2 linked regions of the Homo sapiens genome follow. The protein of the gene in region 1 purifies or fractionates together with the protein of each later gene. This does not show direct contact. Each region holds a gene or a part of one and is shown on either strand. Other genes may lie near its edges.

Region 1 (4,666 bases):
ATAGGTCTGGAATCTTGCCCACAGAGAGAGGCAATTTCTATTTTTATTGCATGTTTCAATGTCTTAAAGGACTAGTTGAGTAGAGAACAATTCCACACTGCCTGAGAGAGAAGGACCCAGCCTTTAGAATCATGGATACCTCAAAGAGCAAAAGGATGTGAAACATGCGTTCATTTCTTACATGAACTGAAATCAGTATGCTAACCTGAAAAAACACCACAGGCACTGTTCTATTGCAAAACCTCACTTCTTTATAGATTAGTGATTTTCAAGTAGGTGAATCTAATTCTACACTCCTATCCACTCTAAATGGACCCACTAGACTATGGTCAATGGTACAATACTGGCATTTCCATAAACATATTGTGACTAAATTCAATTTTAAAATGTAAAAACTAGATACAATTTGAGTTCTCATGCTCATCTCCAACCCCACTCAAAATCAAATTGTGGGTAAATAAGAAGCTTGTTACTGTTATGAACATTTATTATGGTAGAACTTAAAGAACCAAGTATTGACATCCACTTGTACTTGAGCTGTACTTGTGCTCTTGGATGATTGCTATTGCATTTTCTAAAATGGCCAAAGCTTTTTATCGGAATGCTTCTCACACTAGGATCTTCTAGCAGCCCTTATCACTCACAAGAACTAAGTCCTGCTGCCCTAGGCCTATGGCATACACTGCATGTAATGAGTGAACTTCGGAGAGAAGTTATGCATCTAGAATGGCTGTAGTTATGCACCAGCCTGGAGAGGAGTGAGAAAGTCACTCACAGTTTTCCAAAGGGCTAATTTCTCTCTTGTCAATCTGGTTGAGAAAGTCTCTGAGGAGACGTATGGAAAAGTTAGCATTTTTCAAGCCTAGGAGCCTGTCCAGTGCATCCTACAGCAAGCAGAATGTACTAACAAATTCTTTGTGTTTGACTGACATGAAAAACTAGTTGCATGCAAGAATCTGAGACTTGGAAATTGCATTCCTTTCATCAGATTGTTAGTGGAGCACCCTTTATGATAGAAAACAGAAAGTATGTTTGGAGTGTGGTCCCAAATGCATCATCGAGAAGTTAATTTATAAAAAGAAATGTATTACATTGGTCTCGCTGAACAAGGGCTAATGATACTCAGTAGAAGTTGGAGGTGAAAAGTGTGAGTAGAAACAGGCTCAACATGACCATCGTTCATTTTATAAACAAATGGTGACCAAGATACTACAGCTGTGTGTGCAGGACAGAAAATTCTGCCGTCTTCCAGCCATGCCCACACACATAAATAGCCTTCCCTGTCAGGACAGCTCTGGTGTGGAGGCAGAATGGGGCATACAGCCTGCATGAGCACGCGCCCTCCCCCAGGCAGGGATCCCCAGACACTTATATTATTTACACTGGAGAAAGCAAACAGGCTGCCCACAAAGAATGATTAGGAAGCTTGAAGTGTTTTATTCTGTACTTTTTAAAAGTGTAGATTGTCATAGATTCATCTGTATAAATAATTTTCCTGGCAACAGTAGTTCACTTTTCACTTCCCATTCAAAATCTTCAGAACTTCTATTTGAATGCACTTAAAACTTTCCCCTGCTTTTGTTTTATATAATACATTCTCATTATAATTAGGTGACTCATGAAATTAAAGAATTTCTTTTACAAGAAAGTTCAAAATCTTTAGTAAAGATGCTAGTAGCATGCATTAGGGCAAATTAGCACTGTCTTGGTCAGCAATCATTCTAACAGTATTTAAAGAAAGAAAAACACTATTTTTCTTTCATTTTTCCTGAAAGAAAGTGGGAGAAAATAGGCATAGCTGCACCATTCAAAGCACAAAATAATCATTTAGAAAATAAATACCTACGGCATACCCGACACACTTTTATGTCAATTTCCTCAACTGTTTAAAAATGGCCTCAGGCGTGGCTGCGTTTCCACCTGCCTTCTGCCAGCAACCTCTGGGGCCCTTGCCCACTGAGCCTGCCTCTGGAGGGCAACTGCTCTTTGTCACTTGTCATGAGGCCTGAAGCTTGATATCCTGGGCTTCACATGCAATTTCGGAAACTCAAATGACACTACATAGACTTGCTGTAAATCTTTTTTTAGTGCAGTTTGGCAAATATCCCAAATGAAATTCAACTCTAAGTTAAAAGTATCAAAGAGATAGAGCTAAGTGCTCTGGCCCAGAGCTAAGACCCTCTGGGCCGCCCAGAGGCTCTGGAGAGCTTAGGAATAGCAAACCCAATTGCCCAGGAGCTAAAGGGACTGCAGGATACCTGTTGCTTTACCACTACAGAACAGTTACCCCCAGAGACAGCCCTCAGCGACCAGATTTCTGGGCTGCTGTGAAGATCTTAAAGGCCCACAACCCTTGTCCCCGCCACCCCCAAACTCAGAAAGTGGGAGTTATCCCCACTGTAACTCACAGTGCTAAGAACAGCAAGCATTGAACACGGAAACCTGATCTCTCCTCCATCGTCCACCTCCTGGGACTCCAGTCGCTCCCACCTCCTGGGACTTTCAGGTTCTATCTGCTGGTGGGAAGTGCACTTTGGTTTTGGTTTCTAAGAAAAAGATCACTACACAGCTGTCTGGAGGCAGGCACCCGGGCACTAGATGGCCAAGTCCTCCGGTCTGGCCCGCCCGCTGCTGGCCCTGCTGGCCTTGCTGGCCCGACCTGGGTCTCCGAGGGGCAAGGGCGGCTGGTGCATCTGGGCCGCGGTGGTCACGGCCTGCTCCTCCTCCTCGGGGGTCCCTGCCAGGGCGCTCCCCTCCAGACTGCTGCCGCTCCCATCCAGCAGCAGGGGCGCCGCGCCCGCCTCAGCCTCGTGCGCGAGTGGCGGGGAGCTGCTGCCGACGGGGCTGGGGGCTGCAGGCGTGGACGCTGCCGGGTAAGCCTTGAGCGCCGGGGGCTGCCGCTCGGCCGCCTGGTTGGCCCAGTTCTGCTCAGTCATCAGCAGGTGGTGGTGGCCGTTGTAGAGCTTGGCGGACTGGCCCTTTCCGCGCGCCTCGGTCAGGGCTAGCAGTTTGAAGTCCGCGGCTGGTGGCGGGGCCCCGGGGTAGCCCACGGCGCGGGCCTGTCCCAGGGGCGCAGCGGTGTGCGCATAGTAGGGTGGGAACCCGATGGCAACGGCGGGCGGCCGGGAGCTGGGGGGCAGGGGCGGGGGATCGGCTGTCCCCAGCGGGGCCTCGGAGGCGTCCGGGCCGAGGCGGCTGGTCACGCCCTGCTTGAGCTTCTTCCAGCCCAGGTGGTAGATCTCCAGCATGTTGAGCAGCAGGGACGCGCAGGCCACCGCCAGCATGAAGATGATGAAGATGGTCTTCTCCGTGGGCCTGGAGATGAAGCAGTCCACCGTGTTGGGGCAGGGCCAGCGGTCGCAGCGGTAGAGCGGCTTCAGCTCGAAGCCGTACAGAAAGTACTGGCCGGCGATGAAGCCCACCTCGAACAGCGTCTTGAAGATGATGTTGAAGACGTAGGTCCGCAGCAGCGCCCCGGCCATGCGCACCCTGCCGCGGTCGTCCCGCGACGAGGGATTGTCCTGCGGTGGCTCCTTGGGGCTGGGGCTCTCTCTCTTCAGCTGCTCCTCCTCCTCCCTCTCTTTCTTCTTCTCTTCCATGCGCACGATGTGCAGCACGTGGCCCAGGTAGATGAGGGTGGGCGTGGACACGAAGATGATCTGCAGCGCCCAGAAGCGGATGTGGGAGATGGGGAAGGCCCTGTCGTAGCAGACGTTCTCGCAGCCCGGCTGCTGGGTGTTGCAGGTGAAGTCTGACTGCTCATCGCCCCACACGTCCTCCGCCGCGGCCCCCAGCACCAAGATGCGGAAGATGAACAGCACGGTCAGCCAAACCTTGCCGATGACCGTGGAGTGCTCCTGTGCATTTTCTAAGAGTCTTCCCAGAAAGCTCCAGTCGCCCATTGCTTCAGATTCCTAACCTGTAAGAGGAAAATGCTCATGAACACCGGGCTGCAACGGCTGAGTGCCGGGTCCGCACCCATGGGCGGCGGCAGCGGCCTGGATGGTACTGGGATGGGGCTGATGGGCAGCTTCTCCACAGGACAGGCATCGCAGCTCCCCAGGACCTGGACGAGCAGGCACTACACAAGTGCAAGCGTCCATGAGGAACCACAGGTTAAACTCTTCATTTCAGAGAGGAGGAAGCCAGAGCCAGAAGAGAAAATGCCCTCCTCTGGCCTCCAGACTGCTCAAGCCCTCTCCCTGAGGCTGACCCTACAGGAGCTCTGGGGCTCTGCGGCCCCTTAGGCCACTTCTGAATCATGACCTTTCTGTTCAGGTGGGATTAGAGCAACCTCTTCCCAAATTGCTGCCATCCCCATGCCCATGCCACCTTCAGAACTTCTGCCATGTTAATCTGATACCTCTTCTACTATTTGCTTTTTCTGTCTTCACATCAACTCTTTATGCTTAAATTTATCTCAACTAGGAAAGTTTACATTACTACTGTCAATGGAAAATCGGCACTAATACCTTCAATGGATGGTAGCTTTAAGAGTAAATATATTCCAACTCAGCCAGCTTTATTTTGGAAGTAAGGAAATAAAGACTTACTCCCCTTTTTTAAAAAAGAATAAATTCCTTGATGACAATGAAGTTGATACAGTCTATGGGATATTGCTTGCCAAAAGCTCTGGATGTAAGCTCTCTTGTTACAAAGAGGAAGA
Region 2 (5,017 bases), on another chromosome or scaffold:
TTCAGGATGTGTTTCGTTTTTTCTCTACTTAAAATGACAATGATCAAAACTAGATATAATATGCTAGTAAGTTTGTTCTAATGTAGAATTTAGTTGAATTATTTGTTTATCAAATTCCTTTTAAATACCTGACAGTATCAATGTAGCTTTTTTTCACAATAGCATTATATTTCACTTGAAAGCTATTGACATCCAAGTAATTTTTATACAAATTATTCATAGCTTGTCTGGTTTCCATGTTATAATCCTGTAATATCAAGTCATATTCTATTCTGTTTTAATATGATCATTTTAAAATTTATCAAACTCATTAGATGTTTCAGACTTTCTTTGTTTCCTGGTATTAGATATGTACCTCTCTCTATTTAATAGAGGTTGAAGTTTTGATACATTGGGTAAGTTTAATACAGTGAAGAGAAAAAACATGTTTAAAAACATTAAACATTAAACATTAAAACATTAAACATTAAAAATAGCATTAAAATGCTATTTTCCAGCATCAAAATAGCATTAAATGACGCTATTTTTCCAGGATATGGAGAAGAAAATAAAGGAAGATATGGGGAGATTTATAGAAGAAGAAAGGGAAATATTAAAGAAATTGAGGACAGACAAACCCCTCTTAAATCAAACCCAAGGCACAGAGACAGAAAAGTAGAGAACTAAGATAAGTGTTGAGATAGAGAGACTGGAAAGATGATGAGTTTAAATCAACAGAAGCAGTTTTAAGGACATTCTGAAAAACTAATTAGAAACTGAACAATTTGCCTAAAGCAGAGCTGCATAGGTATATGGTATACTAGCATATGGAAACAGACAAAAATGTTCATGTAAATCTTTCAAGAAGAGTGAGTACAAGTTTGGTGAAAGAAAATGATTTTACAGTAAAAGGACTTATTTCGAGTGTGCAGGAATCTTTGAAAGGCTTCTTAAATAGGGGAAAAGATTTATGAGTGAAAGCAAAAAGTAGATATATAGAAGGCAGATGAGAATTTTGGAAGATAATGAACCTCTCTCTTTTTCTTTTAATGTATGCATACTTCACTAGAAGATTAGAGAATAAAAGGTGTTTAGAGAAATGACTGCCTTCTTGTACACAACAATGTGTATAGTCAGAAGGAGCTTCTCTTTAGACAGAACTGGGATATCTGGAAAATAATATACAAACAAGATGTTTAGAATTTGTTTGAAAACAATCTGAATTGACAGATATCATTTGGATAAAGATAGACATAACGTAGAATAAAATTCACTAATATGGAATTGGATAGTGGGGTCATTCATTTATGCATATAAAAATAAAGGTTATGAAATGTTTAGAAAGGGACACTGTATGTTGTGAAAATAAATGTAAAACCTTACAAAAGCAGATAACTTGCCAAAGGTAGATACATTAAGCGTGGAATAAAAGACACTCCGAATTTGTTAAAAATGCTCTAGGTGCCTTAACTTCTTTTCTTTTGGGACACCAGATTATACTGAGAAAGGTTAAAGGATTTTTTAAAAATGATAGTGTAAAGGGACACAAAATGATAAAATCTGTGAAAAGAATAAAAGCTCCCGGTGTCTTAGCTGAGCAAAGCTGTCCAGATCTTGAGCATTGATTACATACCTCCACAAGCAGTTTGAATGGAATATGGACAAAACAAGAAATTACACAGCTGACGATACATGATGCACAAGCTACTCCTCTTTTCAGAGGGAAAAAAAAGTAATATGTAGTAGGAATGGAACATACTGACATTATTCAATTCCAATTGTAAAATATTTGCAGGAATATTTTAAAGGCAGGAGGCTAGCAAATAAGCCAAGAAGGTTTTGTTTGTTTGTTTGTTTTTGTTCTTTAGTGGAAGAAAATAATGGATCAGATACAATCATTGCTTTTGAATAAATAATCCAGAATTTCTTTATAAAGATATTGTCTACGTATGCTTTAGAGAAGAAGAATAAAAAACTATTTGATAAATAAACATAAAGGGGGCATACAGTACCTAGACTCATCTCATTAGTATCTTGACATCTCTTTTTTATGCCAATGCCCAAGGTATGTTACTTTTCCCAAGAAAAATCAAATCCTTTAACTTGCCATTAGCTATTCAAAACTTTAAAAATAAATATCCTTCGAACCAACAACTCCAGTCCTGAGAATATCTCCCACAGATATACTTAGACAGCTAAGTGTATGTACAAGGAAGTTAATTGCGGCATTGCTTATAACTGCAGAATTTGAGGGAAAACCTGAGTGTTCAACTAAGCGGGAATGGATAAATAACTTATGACATGCCCCTACTGTAGATTACTGTGCATGCACTAAAAGAATGAAATAAATCCTGTGCACTGAGATAGAAGACTATCTGTGTTATCTGCTCAAGTGAATTTTAAAATGCACAACAGTATGTATAGTAACCCACTTTAAAGAGGCCTTTATATATTTTAATACAAGCATAATGTAGATTATGATATATAGAGAATGAGGTCTTGAAGTATGCTTACTAAACTGTTAACAGTGGTTACTTCTAGTAAGTGAAAGAGGTAGCCTTTAAGTTTTTAACTTATATCCTTCTGTATTTTGACTTCAAAAAACATACAAGCACATATTTAATTTTTTAAACCTGAAATTTATATGAGGGATAAAACAAACACAAGTTTGGGAGCCAACGTTTTCTCCCCAACTCCTGGTTCACTACCTTTTCTCTTACCTTAACCTTTACCACTACCACAAACTACCACAAACGAACACAAACGAACACTTTAAGCACAACTCATTTTATTATTGGGAGAGGTTTCACAAATAAGTTCCTGGTTTCCAGTTAACTTGTTGCAAAGTTTACATCCTACCCAATGTGACTACATGGCTTTAAAGTTACCAGTGGTAGCTTCTGAGTAAAATTTTGTTTGTTTGTTCATGCGTTAATGGAACATATATTAAGTACCAACAGTATGCCAAACACTGGGGAATTCAAAGATGCTAGTCTCTCAACTGTTTCAGCTGATGCTTGACTATCCTCTCCCACACCCTAGTGTCCTCATTCACTGCTTCCCAATACTCTACATTTGAAAGGTGATTCCCACAAATTTATTGCAATTTAGACCCCATATATCAATGCCGAGATCGCGCCACTGCACTCCAGCCTGGGCGACAGAGCGAGACTCTGTCTCAAAAAAACAAAACAAAAAAAGAGCTGAAGTGACTCTTCTCATGCCTTCAGCATGAGAATATTCCCTTAAAATTGGCATCTCTTTTTATAAGATGAGCTATTATTATTTTACTTCTACTTTTCTAAATAACAGAGACAGCAGACGAATTAGTAATGGAAAATAAAAATAGTGGCATAGGATATATAATGTTTGGGTTTACAAAGAAAAAGGGGCATTTGTGAAAGATTTGATATTTGTTAACATAAACATGTCAATCATTGTTGGAAAAAGAAAAATATGATATATAATCTTGTTTTAAAGTGTATGTATAATGTATAAATATTTTTGGAATAAAAATATTCATCTCTTTCCCTAGAGGGAGAGTGGCTGGATCAGATCATCTCTTTGAAGTTCCAGTTCTGTAATTCAAGCATTTTCTTTAAAAAGCTTTAAAATTAAAATGAGAAGCTTAACTAGGGTTTATACTACACATATGTGTAGGATCAATATTTTTAAAACTGCATTCTTAATATGTTATGCCTTTTGCTCTTTAAATCTGTGAAACAAAACATAGTTTTATTTGAAGTCATTAAAATATGAAGGGGACAGAGTAATCAATGCTGTTGGTTCTTACTGTATTATATTATTAGAAAGCAATTTGTGTATTTTGTGTATCTGTCTTCCTGGTTTTTTATAATGAAACATTTCTATCTTTGAAACTACAGACTCAATCTTGCCAAAATGTTCATTTTTTGTATCATTGTTAAATTGCATATTGTTCCCTTTTGGTGTACTTTAGTAGCCTGTTACAATCTTTTTAAATTCGTTATTCTTAATCGACAAATAAACATTATATATAATTTGTCATGTAAAACATGATATTTTAATCACATCATGGTAAATGGGGTATCCATCCCCTAAAGCATACATCTCTGTACCCACAAAAATTAAAAATAAAAGATAAAAATTGAAAAACATGATGTTTTGAAATATGTGTATGTTGTAGATTCAACCTGTTATAATCTTAAAAGTGATTGTCATTCTTCCAACTTATATCAATAGAACAACTGTCTATTTGTCGTTAGTTGAGACCATCAGGGTGTAGTGAAAAAGCTAATCAACAAGGATTCTTCTCACCAGAGCTCTGTCACTCCTCTGAATTGTGGCTGCTAGCCTGTTAATTCTCCACTAAACCTTTAGGCATTTGGAGACAATTAAGTCTCATGTTGGGGTTTCCTGGGCTTTTTTTTGTTTTTTTTCAAACAAAGATAATTAAGTCTCAAACTTGAAACTTGAAAGATATTTGGCCAGGCAGCAGCAATGTACTGAGTATAGGCTTCTCAAAGAGATGAAGTAATACAATTAGTAGAAAGAACTATCGTGTACTTAATACAGTTGCTCTCTACTTTTCTTTCTCAACCTCCCCCAAAACAAAACAAAACCAAGATGCTTCAGTCAAGCACTATAAAAGGACTATTAAATTATCGCGAAAAGGAATGTTAAGACAGTCTAATACTCTCATTCTGCAGATGGGAAAGTAGAAGTGCACATTGTAATTATTTTTCAAAATAAGGTAAAAGCTGATAATTGTGTAAATAAGCAAAAGTATATACTTTTTCCTTAATCGTTTTTAACCTAAATTAGTCTTAATTTTGTGTTATTCCTACAGTGAAAGAAAACATGCATTGTCACATATCAGGAAAGTTGTGCAGTTATTTTTTCTTCTCCCGAATATTCTGTTGGCTTTATGTTCCACATATGTTGCACCACATTAATATTCAAACAATTTTAGCACACGAAGATTTGTAACCTCATTTTACCTTGATTAGTGACTCAACTCATGTTCTTGTTGTAGGGCTTTGACCAGCTTCGACTTGAA

What was found.
Region 2: the proteins of GJA3 (region 1) and KLHL13 purify together in Homo sapiens (affinity purification with mass spectrometry; one large-scale study listed by BioGRID and IntAct). This does not show direct contact.

The regions. Positions count from the first base shown.
Region 1 is NC_000013.11:20,139,387-20,144,052, forward strand, and holds part of GJA3 (gap junction alpha-3 protein), read right to left. Parts: intron 3,920-4,666; 5' UTR 3,903-3,919; coding exon 2,595-3,902; 3' UTR 1-2,594. UniProt on the Homo sapiens protein: Structural component of lens fiber gap junctions. Gap junctions are dodecameric channels that connect the cytoplasm of adjoining cells. They are formed by the docking of two hexameric hemichannels, one from each cell membrane.
Region 2 is NC_000023.11:117,920,347-117,925,363, reverse strand, and holds part of KLHL13 (kelch-like protein 13), read left to right. Parts: intron 1-4,993; coding exon 4,994-5,017. UniProt on the Homo sapiens protein: Substrate-specific adapter of a BCR (BTB-CUL3-RBX1) E3 ubiquitin-protein ligase complex required for mitotic progression and cytokinesis.